Linked DNA regions of Homo sapiens. The protein of the gene in region 2 interacts with the protein of the main gene of each other region in a biochemical or structural test. Each region holds a gene or a part of one and is shown on either strand. Other genes may lie near its edges.

Evidence for each region.
Region 1: the proteins of UTRN (region 2) and DTNA form a complex in vitro, tested with the Homo sapiens proteins (one study listed by BioGRID and IntAct).
Region 3: the proteins of UTRN (region 2) and MARK2 form a complex in vitro, tested with the Homo sapiens proteins (one study listed by BioGRID).

The regions. Positions count from the first base shown.
Region 1 is NC_000018.10:34,706,106-34,713,393, reverse strand, and holds the start of DTNA (dystrobrevin alpha), read right to left. Parts: upstream 3,097-7,288; 5' UTR 2,949-3,096; intron 1-2,948. UniProt on the Homo sapiens protein: May be involved in the formation and stability of synapses as well as being involved in the clustering of nicotinic acetylcholine receptors.
Region 2 is NC_000006.12:144,288,251-144,295,362, reverse strand, and holds part of UTRN (utrophin), read right to left. Parts: intron 3,627-7,112; 5' UTR 3,535-3,626; coding exon 3,456-3,534; intron 1-3,455.
Region 3 is NC_000011.10:63,891,033-63,898,144, reverse strand, and holds part of MARK2 (serine/threonine-protein kinase MARK2), read right to left. Parts: intron 2,987-7,112; coding exon 2,807-2,986; intron 2,566-2,806; coding exon 2,512-2,565; intron 1-2,511. UniProt on the Homo sapiens protein: Serine/threonine-protein kinase. Involved in cell polarity and microtubule dynamics regulation. Phosphorylates CRTC2/TORC2, DCX, HDAC7, KIF13B, MAP2, MAP4 and RAB11FIP2. Phosphorylates the microtubule-associated protein MAPT/TAU.

The DNA.
Region 1 (7,288 bases), on a different chromosome or scaffold from region 2:
AAGATATTTTATAATAAAGTCTGATAATAACATACCAAGCACCTCTATTCCTAGTGACTTATAAATGCTATTAACATAATTAATTAAATTTGAGGGTTAATTTCTGAGAATCATACTACCCATTAGTAATTTCCACTTTCCTTCTAAGAGCATTGGCCTTTTACTACACAAAGAGGCAAGAGCTTTCTAATCTATCTTATTCTCCAAATTAATCATTATTGTCGTTATCATTATCATCATGATCATGGTACCATTACTTTCTTTTTCATTTGAAAAGTCTTAGATTTCTAAAAAAAAAATCCAATTCTTTTCATGTCAAAAATTACATAGTGGTCAATAATAAAATTCACCTTAATAAAATCGGAGGTTAAAAAATAACTCCTAAAAATGGAGTATCTAGATGATATTGAGTCATCATTCATTGGCTTGATCTTCATCTATTTTAGAAATATTTTCTTGGAATTTAAATATCATTAATTTTTTAGCAGAGGCTATACTATTTTACTCAATATGGTTGTTTTTTAACATGTTAAAAAACTGTTAAATATCTGTCTCCTTAGTAGAGGTAAATGTTTGCAGATAATTATCTATTGGTCTATGACTCTAGGCAGCTCTAGAGATTAAAGCTAAAATGTTAACAAACACTACAAATTATTCAAAATTAACAAGAAAGCATAATTTAAACAAGAGTTGAAACAAATACTGTACAATTAAAACATCCTGGCAAAATTTACAGTTTAAAGCAAGTACATCAAAAGTCAATTTTGCTTCTTAAGAATGAAAATACCAAAACAACTATAAAAGAATCTTCCATCTTGTGATCTCTGTTAAAATTATTTCAGAAGTTTTTGTGTACATATGGTCTAATGTCAGATGAATAAAGATCACAGAAATTTGGGCATATCTTGGTTTTTACACACTTGTAGCTCTAATATCTAAGCTGGCTGGTAGCCCATAACTACAAAGACTGAGACAACCTCACTGTAGATTTTTTTTCATTTTATTTAATAGAAAGGAACTATCTATACTTTATCATGTATTTTAAAGATGGAATAGTGAAATAAAAATACTTTTTAGTAATTTCCCTCATCCATACTACTCTCTTCTCTGACAGATACAGATTTAACCCTTTCCAGTACCGGCGGGAAAGAAAAATGCTTGGGTAAGAGATCATTTACACTTTTATCTTTACCTTTTGTATATCTTTTCATTTTTTTGTCTCTCTCTGTGTCTCTGTCTTGCTTCTTCTTTCCCTCTTTTATTTTTCTTTTAATAAAACATAACACTTTCTACCTCAGATATTGTCAGTTTCAATAATTTCATACTTTAGAATAGTTTACCAGGTACCATCTTTCACTGATTTTTAGAAACTCCCTATTCTCTAGTAGTAACAACTTATGTTTATGAAAATATCTCATGTTTTGAAAGACATGGTCATAGCTCATTTGTACTCAAACAACAAAGGGAAAAAGAAAGGAATAAATTCAGATACAAGCATGAACATTTACAATATTAGATGCTATTATAGTACTTTTGATATCTGTCATCATGGAAACAGTTCTCTTTATTTGAAATCATGGCAAATAATTTTTTTGAATAATGATTATAATTCCTTGCTTAAACTTAGAAAATGGCTTGGACATATGGAAACTAGAGAGATCAAGGAAATAGCGACGAAAATCACAGAGCATAAATAAATTTAATAAAATCTAAGTTTTCCTTTTGTAAGAAAGCATGCTGTATGAACAAACTTGGGAAAATTTATTGGCTTTTATCCTAATTAGTGCCAATTAAGGGCACATAATTGATTTTAGTTCACTAAGAAAGTATTTTTCAAAAAGATTTTCCTATATCTGCACTTTTTCAGGTGGACAGTGAATACACTAGAATAACAGTAGGGCTTTGCTACTATTTAATTAGGTTTTATTTCTAAAAGCTGCTAAGACAGCTTTGTTCTAAGAGGAAGGAAAGAAGTTGCATTAAGTAAACCCCTGGCTAAAATTAGAGTAAATCCTAATATCTTATGAGAAAGTCAAACATCAAACATCAAACATCAGTAAAAGCCATGAAAAAGTAATTAAAATAAGTTATTATTAAAGAAATTGTTCTCCTTTAACTTGCTCTGTGTGTACCAAAGCCTCCCATTTTGAAACAAGCTGCCAGGGTGATATGTAAACAACGCATGAGAAGGCGTCTGCGCTCTGGGAATTGATGCTCCACACAGCCACACTGAATTGTTTACATTCAGTTCCTACCAGCCTCTAAGCAAAAGAGTTCATTTTGCACTCACCCATGTTGTATTTACTTCTATTTTTAAATCCTGTATCACACATACAGCCACAATGCCTAAAAGATTAGAATGCTAATAGAAATAATAGATGTTTTAAAAAATATAGATAAAACCGGACTATACATGTTAGATGAGGCTCGCAATAATATGATGAAAGAAAAACAAAAGCTCACATACAATAAACACACTAGATAACTTTGCTGGAAAACTTTGTCCTACTGCTTAATTTAGTAGAAGAGACAAGTAGCTTTGGACAAATGCCACTAATAAGGTGTCCTCTAAGAAAAGCGGACCATTTTCAAAAAACAAAACAAGAAAACACTTTGTTCAGGTCTACGCTGATTTGAAGACACCAGTTATTGCATTCTTATTACTTCCTTTGCAGTTTTCTTTCTTTGACTTACACACACACACACACACACACACACTCCCACACACACACACTGCCATAAAACTATAACATTTCACAACATCTTAGACTTTCAAATTAAAAACAGCTGAAACCGGAGGTGGAGGAGCTAGGAGGGTGGGCAGGAGAAATTTATCGGGTGCCCATGTGGGGGTGGGGGTGGGGGCGACAGTGAAATTCCACCCAGCAAGTTATGCCACTGCGACAGAAGTCAGAGAGTTCAGTTTCATAGATTCAATTGTACCTTACCTGGTTTTGTAGTTAAATGCACCAACATGCCCCTTAATTCTTCCTCTGAAGTACTACATATGCTGAAAACTATAGTATTTGACCTTACACATTTCCAAACAAACTCCAAAGTAACCTTTAACTTCAATAAAAAGCTGTGTTCATTCTTCCCCTTGTGCTCAACACACAGCAATCTAATACACCTCATCATGTGGTCCGTTACCATGGTAGCAATGAATCCAGCTGCTGAAATACAAAAGACTGACAAAAAGTTGCTTTTTTCCCCTCCACCCACCCTGACAAAGTCAGATTTTTTTTTCTGTATGACAAGTCTAATTTGAATATGCTTCTCTTGCTGACTCAACTTCATGAACAAGAAAAAAATAACAGAAGTATAAGAATAAAAGGTTTCCCAACTAACTAATGAAATATCTCTATGCATTTTAAGTCACCATTAATCTTTTGAAATACTGATCATTATCTACTACATCAGCCAACTAAATATTTTTAAATGTCAGTTACTAACTCAATAGGAAATGCAGCAATAATCCCACAGCTCCTTTAGAAACATTAAAAAATGCAGTAATGTATTCAGTAAACACAGATGCTGAAAACACTACATCAGTGTATGAAGGGCTAGTTTCAAAGTGCTTTTTTTCTAGAGCAAACTTCTAATCACAGCTTAGATGTGGGAGGTAAAATTCTTCATTTTCTTTTCATCAAAACCCTGTGTTTAACTGTTATTTAAACAGATTTCAGTTCTTTTAAAATTTATCATTTAAATTTAAAGCAGGCAACACAGCCTGCTGGAATCGATCAGGCTATATTTGCTGAGGTGGGGAGGGCTCTATATTAAGAGCAGCAGTCTTGGATTTGAAACGATACAAACTCTGAGCAATCCTGGGACTCCCCAAACCAATGGCTATGTAGTTAGGATTTAAGGAATCACCTTCAGCGCATTACCAGTCCTTTAGGGAAAAGCTGAAGGAGTCCCAGGTGACTGGAGCTTCCCCGCTTGCCAGCATGTCAGCATGGTCCTTCCTCCCACCATGGTACATTAATCAGCCAGTGGGTGCCCCCGTCCTCCAGGGATGGCTACTTCATCCCTCAGGCCTCGCATAATCACTCTGCTCTTGCACAACCTTCCTTATTTCCCAAACTTAGCTTACATTTCACAATAATTTGTTTGCATATCTATCTTCTCTCTTTAGAGATGGACTCCCAGAGGAACAGGAACATTGTCTTACTCATCTTTCTCTACCAAGTAACCATCAAAAGACTTGGCACTAGGTAGGGCTACTTCTTCAATGGATAAAGATGGCATCTGAAAGCTTTCCCTCAACTCCTCCAGGACTGTCTTCAGAGCATGGCTTGCTGTGGTTAAACCCTTCAGAGATCTGCACAGAATTTTTCTTAGTACATCACATCACAAAGAGAGGCAAGGCAGAGGAGTTCTTAAGAAGAGCAATTGTGGAATCAAGCAGATGCGGATTTGAAATCTGGCTCTAGCCCATACTACTTTTGTGATCTTGGATAGGTTACTTAACCTCTCTAACCCTCAGTTTACTCTTCTGTAAAATTCCTACTTTAACAAGGAATGGAAATGGATTAAATGAGATAGTCCAAGGGAAGCACCAAGCTTGAAGCATACTAAATGCTCAATAAATTCTGGCTAGTATTATTTAGTCAATATGTGATTTTTGAACAAGAGGGACCATGAGAAAGCTGACTGGCACGTGACTTCCCTTTGCTGAATAAACTGTCATTTTCAACAAGATGTGCATTAACAATCCTATGTTTCCTAACATAGGTTTACATAACAACACAGCATAAATATAGAGACCTTTTTAGGCAAAGAGCAAGGGCTGCTTGCTCCAACCTACAAACCAGCTAGGAGCAACTGATCAGTCAGAAGGTTAAGCATATTTCTAGTATGAAATGGACTGTGGGAAGAATGTTAAACATGGTAGTTAATTTTTTTCATCTTTAAATATGGAAGAAAAACACAAGTACAGCAGTTCATTGTGGTATTCATTTTGGATTCTTAAAAAATGGTCTATATGTTATTTGTTAATGATACTTTCTCAAATTAAGATGAACTGTAAAGAATCTTCATCATAAAGGGCTTTAAAATATAAATTATATACATAGATTACATTTCTAGTAATTAACCAATATTGTGTCAATAGAAGCCTTTACAAGGTCACCTTGATCTCTAACAAGTACTGTAAACTGCTCACCAGTGTAGACTTTTAGCTGCTTCTCTCCATCGTAATCAAATTCAGGAAATTACCTGACACCAAAGCCAATGGTATAGGAAAATTAGCATTAAAATCCCTTTGAAGAATATGGTACAAAGAAGCAGCCAGGGGTTAAAAAAGCCTGTGGTAGAAAAAAACAATTTTATTTTTCATTGCAGGAAGTTACCAGAAAGAATAAAGTGAATGTTGCACATTGCAAGATTTCTCTATCATTAAAAAGTAAGTAAGAAAGAAAAGCCCCACAACAAATCAGTTGGGATGATTAAAATAGCTTTGGCACTGCTCCAACCTTGAAAAATCCTTCAGCGCGGTGACTCATGATGATCCAATCCAAAAAAATGTGTGAGGCCGACCAGGCAAAAAGGCAAGGAGCAGCTACACCGGAAAATTAGCACTCCCTAATCCTCTTCAAAACAGTTGATGAAGGAGAGACTATTTGAATAATTTGAACCCCAATTTGAATAATTCATACCTATTCTCATGTGTGGCTGGCTGAATAGAGACTCTCACTGACTGCATTCATTTCATCAGGAGTGTTTACCTTGTACATTTTTTTCCCCTGGAGATTGGTTATGTGGCCATTACACGTATCTAATTGTTTTTCATTTTGTAAATGTAAGAGCTTATCATTTATCTAGTTAAGGTACACTGTTACTAGAGCATTTAATATGATTGATTGCCAAACAGAAGGTGCATCCTTTGTCAGATGTTAAAGTGACTGTTGATTCTTTAACCCCTAGGGAATACGACGCCAGTATATTTGGTTTCACAAAGTTTTAAATCCCCTTTTGCAAATGTTAAAATTAAACTTCCCCCTCATGTGAACAAAATATGCAACATAATCTGTGCTCTTGTGACCCACTTAATTTCATATGAAGAATTCAATCACTTAGAAAAAGTTTTTGAGACATAGGTAATGATGCTTCAGAAGGTACCCCAGGAAGTCAATTTGCCAAATCCTAGTCCCATAGAAGCAGGAGGGAGCTTCAAAGTTATATGCTTCACTGCCCTCTCTTCAGATGTGAGAGCACCTAATTTCCTACAAACTCAAGGTAACAACATGGGCTCAGAAGTCACGCGCTTAAATTAAGCAACATGGCTGCAAAAAACGTTGATGGCCAATGTTAATGAAATTAAAACAAGCAAAACAATTTGAACCTCTGAAAATGCAATTTTCACATCATAGTTAAAAATTATTATTTATTTTTTCATACCACAAAGTGCTTTATTGTTAGGGCACTGGTTTAAATTAAAAAAGAAAGTGTGTTGACAGCAACAAAAAAAGATTGTGATCTACTGAACAATTTTTGCAAGCACATTGTTTCTTGGGCCACTTTGAGCAGCTGACCTAAAAAATATTAATCGGATTAGTATCTATTCTGCTCATAAAAATTTCTTATGAAAGAACAAGTCTGTTGCAAGCCATCTCAATTTATACAATTTAATATCAAGATATTCTATTTTACCCTTAAGATATTTCAAACATGCACTTTTCCTTTGAATTGTAACAATGGGGCTATAAATAATAAGGATTTCTTTATGTTTTTCTTCTGTGAGTACATCACAGAAAATATCCGTTTTTAAATAACACTATGAAATTGATGGCTCCATATCTTACAGATAACCTATTGTGAACTCTGAATCATTTTGCCATATCATTTTTGGAAATTTATCCTCAAGCCTCTGTTTTTGTATTTTTTCATGTGTTTAAAAATTATAATTATATACTTATATTCTGAATGTATTCTTAGTGAAAAATACGTTGGTTTTTAAACTTAATAATAAAAACTTGTAACTTTCCATGTTCTCATGAAAAGATAATGTTACATGTCCATTGTAGAGAAGTTGAAAAATACAGAAAACATTTGTGAAATAATATTAAAAGCACTTATAATTCAACTATCAGAAATAACAAGTATCAACATTTTGATGTATTTCTTCATACATTAAAAATTCATGGCTGGGAGCGGTGGCTCATGCCTGTAATCCCAGCACTTTGGGAGGCCGAGGCGAGTGGATCACCTGAGGTCGGGAGTTCAAGACCAGCCTGACCAACATGGAAGAACCCCGTCTCTGCTAAAAATACAAAATTAGCTGGGC
Region 2 (7,112 bases):
TGGGATAAAACCACAACAACACTGACAGCAACAGAAAAGGATGACTTATTCTGTGTTACTAGCTTTAATGTATGTTAATTATTGAATGAAATAGCAGTGAGGATATTCTTCGATTGTATATGCATCCCAAACCATTTTATTATTTCATGTTTAAAATGTTCCAAGCAGTACTTTCTGCATCACACACTCTACTGGCAATAAATTTCACTTTTTAAAAATTCTTAGTCTTGGCCTATTGTTTCAAAATATTTACTAACTTGTTGAACTTTCTAAAGCCTACTAATTAAGGCTGTTAATAATACAGTACTTGATGATGAACTTGGCATATGTGCTTTTAAGTTAGAGAAAGACAGGTCTACTTTTACCCAACACCAAATCCTTGGTCATTATAGATCAAATTCTTTCCAGTTCCTTTCTAACACTCACCCAAACCCAAGGCAAGTATACTACAACCATAAATAAATACATGGCTTTGTATTTATGAAACTACTTCATTACGTACCCTTGACAACTTCCTATTTCTGTTTAGATGGTAGAAATGGCTTTAAAATTATAAAATTTAAAAAATTATAATATTCAAAATGGCATGAAACAAAGTAATACTAAGTGAGGACAATAAAAATAATCACAATAACTTAACATAAAATGCATAGACATTTTTATTATGCCAATTTAATTATGCCAGCCTTTTGGATTGTCCAAACTCGAGGATTTGGAGAGCAGAAACCACACTCTCCGTCCCCCCACTTTCATCCAATTTCCCCCCAAAAAAGAAACCTGGAAGAGCAGATGAGGATCAAAATTTTCCTAAAGGAAAGTATTCCCTTTTAAAAAATGGAAAAGCAACCAATTTGGCATACAGCATGTAGACAGAGGATCTTTAAAATACATATATGATATGTAGACAATTCCTATGACTTAATCTAAACTAAAAATCTCTTAAAATATGTAAGTTTTAGAGTACCATGAAATATTACCTCTGTATAGTAAGCATTTGCCTTAAAAGAATCAAAAAAAGTCCCTTAGAGGAAGCCAGATTGGGACTAATGGGTCCATTCAAATCCAAATTTATCTACTGGCTTTTGCAACATAATTCAGCCAAAAGAATGTGATTCATATCTGAGCTATGTAACAACTAAATTTTCAGTGTGTTTTGAAGTAGATGCCACCACAAAAAAAGTAATAGTCATAACCTTGGCATCTAAACACTCTAAGCAATTTGATAATCTTTAAAAATATAAGAACTCAGTAATGTGGGTTCATTGAAGAACTTTAGAAAATATAAATCAGCAAAAAAAAAAGTAATAATCTCAAATGCCAAGATGACCACTATTAACATTTATTGTATACTTCACTAAATTTTTAAAAAACATTTTTCATATAAATGACTTCATATAATACATACTTGTTTACTTACTATATCAAGAACACATTTCTATATTCATACACACACACACACACACACACATCACACACATCTGTATCACTTTTTATGAATGCTTAATCTTCTACTTTATGGATATACCCTAATTTAGTTACCTCTACTGAGATCATGTATGATCTGTTCAGATGTGCTAGAGTAAAGAAACAGAATAATAGGTTTAAACAACTATTTCCTAAAGCTATTTGACCATAACATCCTTTTGTGAATTACACATTAACAATCCTAGAACTTTTGATCTTTTCGAAATACTTTGGGAAATAATGATCTAACCAATTCCTAATATTAGATTTTCATGGTGTTTACAATGTTTTCTATTATAAATGATACTGTGATCAATTTCTTGAGTGTACCTTTTTATGTATTGCCTAGGGAAAAACTCTAGAAACAGAATTACTCAGTTAATTGATATGCATGTGTTAAAAACATGTTATCATTTTTGCCAAATTGTTCTCCAGCAATATTTTAGGTTCATCAGCCTTTTTAAAAGATAATTTTAAATTAAAATAGTTTGGGAGTTTATATGTTCATTATATATACACGGTATTTCTGAAATTAGATAATTACTCTTTTATGGACACGGCTAAAGTACAAGTTATAAATATCAAAGGTCTTACTAGAATGAAGGCTGACTCAGAAAACTATTTAGGAATATACCTCCTCACAATTTATAGAAAATGACTAGTATGGAGACATTAAATCGTCTCTCTTCCATTTTCCTCTGTTATATTTACATATGTCTGAATATGTATTCCGTACTCCTAAGATGATATTAATAATCCCTTACATTTTTGTAGTACCTTATACCACTAAAACATTTAAAACAAAAAGAATTTTACAGGAAGAGAACATCCTCAAAGCATATTTTAAAACAAGATATTAAGCTATACCTTCAAAAGACCCGTCAAGCTACACAATAGTTGCTACATATTTACAGCCAAATCTGTAATAACTAAAATCTTTATCAATCAACCAACACCGGTATCATGGAGGAAAATGTGTATTTTAAGACAGTTAATTTAGATCTTATTTTCACTGTGTATTTCTACAGTTTCACATAATAAGAAACAAGCTCCTAACAGAACATAAAGATGGTTCACACAGCAAAAACAGGCTTTGGGTTCCTTTTTTGTCTTTAAAGTGACACTGGATGTAATTTTATACCTCAAAGTAACTTTTCAAAGTTACTTAAGTATAGTGTTCACACTCAGGGTGGAGTTCTGTGTAATTTTCAAGGCTGAGAAGTGTTCTGCCTGTTCAAAAATATCTCCCCTTTGAGTTTGTCTCAGAATCATATTTGAAGCTTTTTAAAAATACAGAAATTTTTATTCAATGGGTCTGGAATGGAGCCAATGCATCTGCGTTTTTTAAAACTCCCCAGTTGATTCATCTGTACAGCCAGAGTCAAAAAGCACTCGGTTATATAAAAAGATTGGAGGAGGGGGTGGTATCCTGAGGACCCCAATTTAACTGTTCGTGTGAAAACCATGAATCTGTCTGAGTCTGGTTTATTAGATTACCTAGGTGAAAATTTTACCTTGAGAAGGCTCATAAGATATTTCAAGGTAGGACACCTGTTGGCCTATCAATGGCTATGAACAGGGATGGGGGTGAGGATATATGGTAATGAAATCAAACTGTGAAAGATCTTTCCTGCCAGAAACTGTGGCACTTCCTACATTAAGCATATAATCCCTTCAATTTCCAGAAAATAGAAAGAGAAATGTTCGGTCGTATTTTATTTTAATGGAGTAGTCTTCCAAATGAACAACCTTTAGCTACAAGCAGCAGTTTCACTAAGCACAAAATTGGGTTGAGAAAGGATAGGACACTCAGAGATATTATACCTTTTACATATACCTTTTACAAAATTATAGTCATTTGTCAGAATTCAGTTTCTTAAAAGAACTTCACCTCCAAGAAGTTCTTGCAAGAACAATGCAAATCAATCCAAGAAACATAGGTTTTCTAAATACATAAAAATCCATAGCTTTCTTGAGCTTCCTTTACCTACCAGATCTGGACTTAATGATATCACTGAATTCGTTCTGCCCATTGTCAGGACTGGCTTCATGTTCTCCATACTTGGCCATCTTGCCAGAGTTTCAAGATAATCCAAAAACTTTACCAAGTCCTCTTTCTAAGGCTTTCAACTTCCTACGATGGTTCAGCTTGACATCAATACCTAAAAGGAAAAGGGAAAGTACTGACTTGAAAAAATGTATTTATATATTTTATATAGTTATTCGTAGTAACTATTCATTCACCAAATATTTATTGAGTGCCTACCACGTGTAAAGCACCAAGCCAGGCAATGGTGTTATGACTATGAACAAGAGACATAGCCTCTGCCATTACGGCGCTTATGCACACTAAGCAATTAATTACATAATGAATTATTTCATTACAATACTGACAGACTACAAATCATACAAAGGAGAAGCACAGAGTATTAAGAGCACACAGCAGAGGAGTCTGACCTGCCCTGGGCAATTAGAGAAGGCTTTCTTGAAGAGACATTTGAGCCAAGCCTTTAAAGATGACAAGAATTTAATTAGCCAAAAAGGGAAACAGAAAGAGAAAAGGTAAGAGCTTCCTATGTGAAGTGGCAGAAAGAATCATGGAGCAGTCAAAGAATGGAGCACAAGCCAGTGTTTCTGGAAAGAAGACAGCCAAGAGACAAGTGTACCTGTTGAACCAGGTGAAGAAGCTGGGCAGGACCAGGGATAGGACCATGGAGAACAGGTCAAGGGTTTGTGTCTTTATCTGAAGAGCAATGGGGAGCCAGTAGATGGTTCGAAGGAGGGAACCAACATGGTCAAATTGGCCTTTTTAAAAGATCGTCAAGGGACGGGCACGGTGGCTCATGCCTGTAATCCCAGCACTTTGGGAGGCCGAGGCAGGTGGATCACGAGGTCAGGAGTTCGAGACCAGCCTGGCCAGCACAGTGAAACCCTGTCTCTACTAAAAATACAAAAAAAAAAAAAAAATTAGCCAGGCATGGTGGTGTGCACCTGTAATCCCAGCTACTCAGGAGGCTAATGCAGGAGAATTGCTTGAACCTGGGAGGTGGAAGTTGCAGTGAGCTGAGATCACGCCACTGCACTCCACCCTGGGCAACGAGAGTGAGACTCCATCTCAAAAAAAAAAAAAAAAAAAAAAAAAAAAAGACGATTGTGGCTTGTAGGTAGACCACAGTAATATGTGGGGAACCAGTGAAGACTATGGCAGAATATAGCAAAATGCAAATTAAGGAACCTAGCTCATGGGTATATGAATGCTGAATGAAAATTTCTTGCAACTCTTCTGTATGTCTGAGAATTTTTTCATAGTAATATGTTGGGGAAAAATTCCTAATCTTAACCAAGTGATCAAAATTCACATAACCAATCATGGGGCATCATGCAATTGAATGGAAAATCACCACATCATCTACACAATATCCTTGCCAAGATGTTGAACGTGAATCTTCTCATGAGCAGACAAATCTAGACTGTGGCTAGTTTTCAAAAGAAATGGCCTGGTTTCTTCAAAACTGTCAGCGTCTTGAAAACCAAAATTACCTGGGAGAGGGGGAGCTTTGTGAATTAAAGGAGACTAAATAGACATGACAATGAAATGTAATCTTTGATTGAATTCAGAATTTTAAAATAAAACATTTGAGGATCATTTGAAAAATCTGAATTTGGACTATGTATTAGACAATATTATTGTATCAATGTTAAATTTCTTTAACATTAATTATGGTATTGTTGCAGGAGAATGTCTTTGATTGTAAGAGACATGTGGTGAAATATTTAGCAATGAAGTGTGATGGTATCTTCAACTTAAGTTCAAACAGAATAGCATATATCTGTCTATACTGATATAGGTATATTTAGGTTGATATATGTATGTAGATGTATATATGCATACACACAGACAGACAGAAAAATGCAGTAAGTATTGTAAAATAAGTGGGAAAACTAGGCCGGGCAAGGTGGCTCACGCCTGTAATCCCAGCACTTTGGGAAGCCAAGGCAGGTGCATCACCTGAGTTCAGGAGTTCGAGACCAGCCTGGCCAACATGGTGAAACCCCATCTCTACTTAAAAAAAAATACAAAAATTAGCTGGGTGTGGTGGCAGGTGCCTGTAATCCCAGCTACTTGGGAGGCTGAGGCAGGAGAATCACTTGAATCCAGGAGGCGGTGGTTACAGTGAGCCGAAATTGTGCTATTACTCTCCAGCCTGGGTGACAAGGGCAAAATTCCATCTCAAAAAAAATAAAGTAAGTGGGAAAACTTGTTAAAGGGCATCTGGGTCTAGGCGAGGTGGCTCACACCTGTAATCCCAGTACTTTGGGAAGCTTAAGCGAGAGGATTACTTGAGCCCAGAAGTTTGAGATCAGCCTAGGCAACATGGTGAGACCTTGTCTCTACTCCATGTAAATAAAAATTTTAAATAATAAAATAAAATAAAATAAAAAGGACATCTGGGTGTTTATTGTGCTATTCTTTCTATTGTAATATTATATGCAGGAAACAAGTGTGGTCTAAACAAGAGTAGATAGAAAGAAATGGGTGAATATGTGGGATATTTAGATATCAAAGAAAGTCAATAGGATTTGGGAATTGATTGGATATGAGAGATTCATATCCAATGTGCAAAATGTGCAAAATGACTCCCCAATTTTGGCTTAGGCAATTAGGTGAAGTGTGAGTCATTGAGCTGGGCAACACTGAGGATAGCAGGCTGGGAGAAAGGAATCATCAATGTGATTTGGATTTGCAGAGCTTGAAATGCCTCTGAGTTATATAAGCGGAGATGACAAAAAGAGAGTTGGGCCCAGCATGGTGGCTCATGCCTGTAATCCCAGCTCTTTGGGAGGCTGAGGCAGGCAGATCACTTGAGGTCCAGAGTTCAAGACCAACCTGGCTAACACTTGAGGTCAAGAGTTTGAGACCAGCCTGGCCAACATGGCGAAACCCTGTCTCTACTAAAAATATAAAAATTAGCCAGGCATGGTGGCAAACACCTGTAATCCCAGCTACTCAGGAGGCTGAGGCAGGGGAATTGATTGAACTCAGGAGGTAAAGGTTGCAGTGGGCCAAGATCGCTGCCACTGCACTCCAGCCTTGACGACCGAGTGGGTGAGACTCCATCTCAAAAAAAAAAAAAAAAAAAAGAGAGAGAGAGAGAGTTGGATATAAAGGATTGGATCATCAATCTGACAGATTTTATGAGAGTCTAAAAAACTTTTTTCATTTTTTATAGGCTCTACTACTGCTAAAAATTTATGGATTATTATATGATTACATTCTTTCATTCAAGTACATAACTATAAAGGATTTGCTAAATTCTTAAGTGTATTTTATTATATTCAAGAATCAAAAACTTTGTTCAGAAGAATGTCTATAAAAGTTTATCATGGAAAATTAAGTTTGCCCAGGGAAAAATTCTCTTTCCTGGAAAGAACTACAGTGTATCACTTTGGAGCAGTAAGTCTAATGCTTTTCTTCACTATTGGTCTTAGCCAAGATCTCCACTTCTATGCTACCCAAAGCCTTTATTCACCCATAAAAGAGAAAAGTCAACTGTTTACACACTACTTTATTCCATTTGCCCATTATCAGTAACACTTCTTCACTATAATGTTTCACTTGCCACTCTCCTCAAGGTGATTTTTCAAAT
Region 3 (7,112 bases), on a different chromosome or scaffold from region 2:
CAAAAAACCAAAACCGGGCAGGGAAAAGAAAATAGGGTGGTTGTCTAGCTCATGCACGGCCTTCCCTGTGGCTGGGAAGTTGGGGAAGCTGGAGGAGGGCTGGCTGTGGGGACGTGCTACCCGGGATGGCATCAGGATGAGCCAGCCATGCCCTCTGCTGCGTCTACCAAATCCAGCCCCAAAACAGCAGGCAGGTTTTGGCTGGGTGCCTCTACTGGAGGGAGTGTGAGCCCGTGTGCGTGAATATTCAGAATCCGAGCTGCTGCCTTGGTTCAGTGACAGTACACACCCCAGCTTGGTCTGTGTAAAGGGGTGGTAGAGCACCAGAGGGGGACCCCATCATTTTCTGATTTACAGTAGTCAGAGGGCTCTGTTCTAGGGGATAGGCCTTTCCTTCCTGGGCCTCTAGGGTGGTGACAGAAGAAGCCACTCCTATATATAGCTGATGCCAATTTTAATCAAATCCACCTCCACACACTCACGCTCTCTTTGTGAAACAAAACCAGGGGCTCCAAACCATGTATTTCCATAAAGAAAGATGACAGAAATGAACTCCTTCCCCTCTGCGGGGGCCAGAGAACTGGAGGTGGGGCTTTTTGTAATTTCAGGCCTCATCACTTGCACAAAGAACAGAACTAGTTTTTGTTGTTGTTTTTGTTGGGGGTAGGGGAAGCCCTAATTCAAGATATGGTTTATGGAATAAAGTGAATACATTTGTTTCCCCTTTAATGATGCCCCAGAGCTTTCCTAAGCTAGAAAGGAAAAGAAGAAAAAGGCTTTCCAATCCTCAGGAACCCAATGCTGACCTTACCCTTTATTAGGGCCTAGGTTTTTCTTACTTTTTTCCCTGGTCCAACAGATATTTTGGATGGAGAGGCAAAAAGCCTGGATACCACCCTCTGGGGCAGTAATGGGGAGCAGCTCTGAAATAGGGCCAGAGGCAGCTGCCAGGGCTTCTTCCCCTGAGGCTGCTCACCTGGCATGGAAGTGACATTCTTCTGGGAGAACTTGGGGTTTTCTGGGCTTGTCTAGACCCCTGAGGGGGCTAGCTTCTTCAATGTTCATTTTTCAGGGATCATTGCTGAGATCACATTTTTGGCCAGAATCAGACTGGCTTTAGTAACAAAGAGTCTCAAAAGGTTTTGAAAATGGCTCTATTTGTCTGGTGTTGGTGCCTTCCAGAGAGTCAGGAAGAATTAGGGAGAAAACCAAGAAGAATTAGGGAGAAAAACAAGGTCAGGAATAAGATGGCTTGGTGGACTGGCGATTATTACGATGGCAGGCTAGACTGCTCCCAAGGCCAAATGGCCTACCCCACGCTGACTTCTTCTGTGGGGCTGGAGCCAGGATGTCATAAGCAGCCCTTTTTCCCTTCCTCCTGGAAAGCTTCAAGCAGAGACACCCTGATGATGACAACAATGTTTCTACTGAACTGAAGAACCCTTGAAGGGATCCCAGGGGTAACAATAAATAGGAAACACCTTGGTTCTGGCTATTTGCATGTCCGGAGAACAACTCATCCACTCTAATTCCATGAGCATCGCCCTCAACAACAATCCTCAGCCCTTACTCCTAAGGTTCCCAGTATCACTATCTGACTCTGTTAGCACGAATCATGCCTTCTCCTAACTCAACTGCCACAATATGCTTATGGAGAAAATATCTGATTTGCCACAAGATGAACAGAACTAGGTTTTGTTCAGAAAATTTGAGCTGGAGCTCATTCTCTAAAAGGTAGCTGGCACAGAACCCACCGGCAGGTTCCCTGCTTCCTCTTATTCTTGTATTTCTAAAGCCACTCCCCTGTATCATTCCAGATCTTGAAGTAGCTGCACGTGTTTCTAGTAGTGGCTACAAACATGTGTTTTTGCATAGGGCTGGCCACAAGCCAGAAGATAACAAGATGCAGGAAGTAGGTCAGACAGGTAGGCCAAGTGGCTGGGAATGAACAGAAAGACTTCACAAGAGCCAGTGCCTATGGCCAGGAAGCCCACTCAGGAGGAGTCACCACAGATGATCCAACCAAAGCCCCGAAGGTAGCAGAGCCATGGGAGGGAATGGTTGGGGGACGGTGAGCGAAATGGCCAGAAAATTTAAACTAGGAATTCAAGAGAAGGTCTAAATGGGGTCAGTAGATCATTGACCCCAGAAGAGAGATTTAGAAAGGGACAGGTGGGCTGGGGGCAGTGGTTCACGCCTATAATCCTAGCACTTTGGGAGGCCGAGGCGAGCGGATCACTTGAGGTCAGGAGTTCGAGACCAGCCTGGCTACCATGGTGAAACCCCATCTCTACTAAAAATACAAAACTTAGCCAGGTGTGGTGGCGGGTGCCTATAATCCCAGCTACTCGGGAGGCTGAGGCGGGAGAATCGCTTGAAACCAAAAGGCGGAGGTTGCAGTGAGCCGAGATCACACCATTGCACTCCAGCCTGGGCGACAAGAGTGAGGCTCTGACTCAAAAAAAAAAAAAAAAAAAAAAAAAAAAGGGACAGGAGGTGCCATGTGCTTACTTTCTGGAGGCTGGAGGAGTTCAGTTGAGTCTTGTCAATGATCTTCACAGCTACCTGAGGATGAGACAAAAAGGCCCCAAATCACTTCTCTGACCAGCGAAACCCAGGATTCCAATCTACTTCCTCCTTTATATTTCTTACTCCTTTTCATCCCACAGCTTTTTGCACCCCTATATCTCAGATCTCATTTCTGCCGGATAAACAAGAGGTTGGCTGCAGTAGTAGTCCCATCACCACCTGCTGGAGTGTCAACAGGGCTGGGAGGTGCTGCCATGTCCCCAGTCCCAGTGCTCACCTCTTTCCCAGTCAGGATGTGTCGGGCCAACTTCACCTTGGCAAAATTACCCTTGCCAATGGTCTTGAGGAGCCGGTAGTTTCCAATGTGGGGCTGCTCATCAGCAGAGGTGGCTGAGTTGCGGCCCCGAATCATGTTGGACTTACTGCTGGGCTTGGAGTCAAGGTGTCCCAAGGTGGGCTGCGGGGTGGAAACAGAGATACCATTACATGCCACACTTCCAGTCCTCTAAACGCTCTCTGCAAAATATATAAGGGATGAGGGTGCAGGGGCAGATTCCAGGGGGCTGGTAGGCATGTGAAGAATGATATGGCAGCAGAAGAAAGGAGAGGGGGCTGAGGTGACAGCCAGTCTTCACTCCAGAGAAGCACATCATAAGGTCCAGTGCCCAGGTCCTGTGGGTGGCAAAGCTCAGGAGCAGAGCTGTCCCATCACTGGCTCCCTGAACCTCCATTGGCAACACAACAGCTCGTCTGGTTCAGGAGGGAGAGCCGGTACCCTGCCTCCCTCCATGCTGCCTGTGCACACTGCGAGAAGACTGCATCTCAAAGTCATGGTAGCTACATGGTCATAACTGCTTCAACGCCCTCATCGCCACCCAAAACTTACATGAACCTTTATTTTTTATTTATTTATTTTTTTGAGACAGAGCTTTACTCTTGTTGCCCAGGCTGGAGTGCAATGGTGCGATCTCAGCTCACCGCAACCTCCACCTCCCGGGTTCAAGCAATTCTCCCACCTCAGCCTCCCGAGTAGCTGGGATTACAGTCATGCGCCACCACGCCTGGCTAATTTTGTATTTTCAATAGAGATAGGGTTTCTCCATGTTGGTCAGGCTGGTCTCAAACTCCTGATCTCAGGTGATCCGCCCGCCTTGGCCTCCCAAAGTGCTGGAATTACAGGCGTGAGCCACTGCGCCCAGCCATAATAACTTTGTTGGGTAGAAACGTAGTAGCCCTTCCTGCATGGAAGGACTGCATGGCCGAAGTCGAACCCGAGTCTCCCGCGTAGGAGACGAAATTTCTGCCGCTGAACTACGAATGCCCCACTGAACCTTTGTTATTTATCACTTTACATTTATTTGCCATCTCCCCCAGTAAAAATGGAAGCACATGAAAGCAGGCATATATTCTTTATTCACTGATACATCCCAGCACTTAGAGAGACTGGCTTATGTTTGCTGCTCAATGAATACTTGTACAATGAAAGAACTGAACGATTAGGTCTGAGCAAGGCAGCAGTCTGCCCTGCTCTGCCACCCGGCTCAAATGAGGGGATGAGGAAGCAGAAGCTACAACTACCAGCACTGAAGAGGCATATAAACATAATACGGGTTGAATATCCTTTATCCAAAATGCTTAGGACCAGAAACGTGGCAGATTTTAAATTGTTTTGGATTTTGGAATATTTGCATATACATAATCAGATATCTCAGGGATGGGACCCAAGTCTAAACATTTATTTTTCATGTGTACATTATATACATGGCCTGAAGGTAATTTCATGACATTTTAAAATAATTTTGTGCATGAAATAAAGTGATTGAATTTTGCTTATAACCTGTCATATGGGGTTACGTGTAGAATTTTCCACTTGTGGCATCATGCTGGCACTCAAAAAGTTTAGATTTTGGAGCATTTTGGCTTTTGGATTACGGATGTTCAACCTGTACAAAAAGGGTATGGTCTAGACAAAAAACATACATCTATGTGAAGACGTGTACATTCCTCAAAGTGCTAAACACAGACTATATGAGCCAGCAATTCCGCTCCTCAGTATATACAAAAGAGAAATGAAAACAGAAATCCACAAAAAACCTGTAACCAAGGTTCACAGCACCATAATCCATAATAGTCAAAAAGTGGAAACAATTCAAATGCCCATCAGCTGGATGAACGGATAGACAAACGTAGCATATCCTTACCGGGGAATATTGGTTGGCAGTAAAAAAGAATATATGCTACAACACAGAAGAAACTTGGATAAACTTATGGTATCTCACTAAAACTGTTCAGAGTCTAGGCCAGGCAAGGTAGCTCATGCCTAAATCCCAGCACTTTAGGAGGCTGAGGCAGGAGGATCACTTGAGGCCAGGAGCTTGAGACGAGCCTGGGCAACATAGGGAGACTCTGTCTCTACAAAAAATTAAGAAATTAAGAAATCTTGGGAGGTTGAGGCAGGTGGATTGCTTGAGGTCAGGAGTTCGAGACCAGCCTGGCCAACATAGTAAAACCTTGTCTCTACTAAAAATACAAAAAATTAGCTGGGCATGGTGGATTACAGGTGCCTGTAATCCCAGCTACTAGGGAGGCTGAGGCAGGAGAATTGCTTGAACCCAGGAGGAGGAGGTTACAGTGAGCTGAGATCGCACCACTGCACTCCAGCCTGGGCAACAAGAGTGAAACTCCGTCTCAAAAAAAAAAAAAAAAAAAAATTAAGAAATCAACTGGGTGTGGTGGCATGCACCTATAGTCCCAGCTGCTCTGGAGGATGAGGCGGGAGGATCGCTTGAACCCAGGAGGAGTTCGAGGCTGCAGTGAGCCATGATCATGCCATTGTACTCCAGCCTGGGTGATAGAGCGAGACCCTGTCTCAAAAAAAAAAAAAAAAAATGCAGAGTCTGGTCTAACTCCTGATTAGCGCCCTGGTTTACATCTCACAAAGAACATCTGGAGCGATCGCTCCAGCATACTGCAACAAAGCATATGAGGCCAGAGCCTCATCCCAGAACCATCCAGAGCTGCCTTGGAAACTTCAAGGAAACAGTCTGGAGGGCAGCAGGGTGACCAGAGGAGTGTGAGTGAAAGTTCTTCCTTTCATGGCCCCTGCTGGCTGTACGTGAAGCACTCAAAAACCACAGAGAAAAAAAGAATGACTTGCTACTACCCAAGGAACTGTCCAGCATTCCTAGACAAGAAGCTTGCTAGCTCAACCAGATGCTTTTCAGGCAGAAACGACAGCAGCAAGTTAAGTACAGTATCCTGATTCTGACATTTCCCCTTCTTCACTGTGCCCACGTAGGGCCTTTGCATGGTAGCTGCAGGCTGTCTTTTGGTGAGCTGTTTGACCAGATCCCAGAAACACATGGGGTTGGACCTTGGAGGAGGAAGATCCCATGCATTTGGTAGATGTTTGAAGGGGGAGGCTCCTCACATCCCAGAAGAGGCCCTTTTAACTTCCTTCTCTCTTCCTCATCAACCTTTGCATCTCCATGAAGCCCCCCAGCTCTTATTGTCTGCTCATTCCAGCCCACAGAGCTCTCTGGTGCTCTGTTCTCCACGCACCCTGTAGCTCACCTAAGCCTGGTTGGTCCTCAAACAGTGTCTGCAAGACAAGTGGATTTTTAAATACCTGCTTTTTTCCCTTCCAAAGGAACTCTAGGGTTCACACCCCTTGGAGAGAAGGGCATTTCTAGGCCCTGCTGGCACCTGATTGGGCCAGCCTCCTGAAGGGTACCCTAGCCCTGTCCAGCAGGGTACTGAAAGCCTGGTCTCCTCAGGCTACCTTTTTCTCAGCCCCATCCTCCCTTTCAGTGCTGCTAGACTGCCTCCAACCCTACCCATCTGCCTAACGGGCAATGAACAGGAAAAAACCTTCCTTCTGCCCCAACTCCTACGAGAGGAAGATGGGTGGGAAAGTTTCCTTGGCAACCTCTAGTTCACCTTCTAAGTTTGTTGTCACTCCCTGTTTCTCCGAGGATATAAGCCCAAGGCAGCAGGAAGTGTGACGGTCTCTAAGTTCTCAAAATCCAGACCAGGGATTTAGCATCTACCTGCAGACTTGGGCCTTTTGCCAACTGAGACCAAATCTGGGCATCCCATGCCCATCCTGAGCTCTGCTCTGCCCATCCCTCTTGGTGAACCGAGGGGCTGGTCTGTGTGGCACAGCAGGTCAGCATTCCCTGCCTGGCCCTGCTGCACAAGTGGGCCTCAAGGAGCTTAACAACCACAAGCAAGATTGTACCATTCATTCTCTTCCTTTCTGGTTAAGACTGTAGATGTCGGAGATAAGCTGCCAGGTTTCAAATCCTAAATCTGTCACCTACTCAGCACATATTAACTTTATTATTATCATCAACATCATCAAGCCAGGCACAGTGGCTCATGCCTTTACAGGCAGCACTTAGGGAGGCAGAGGCAGGAGGATAGCTTGAGCCCAAGAGTTCAAGACCTGCTGTTCACAAAAAGGAAAAAAAAAAAAGAATATATTTAAAAAGGCAATACAGTGAGACCCCCATTCACAAAAAGGAAAACACACACACACACACAAACAAACACAAAAAGCCCCAAAATAAAACAAGTGTAAC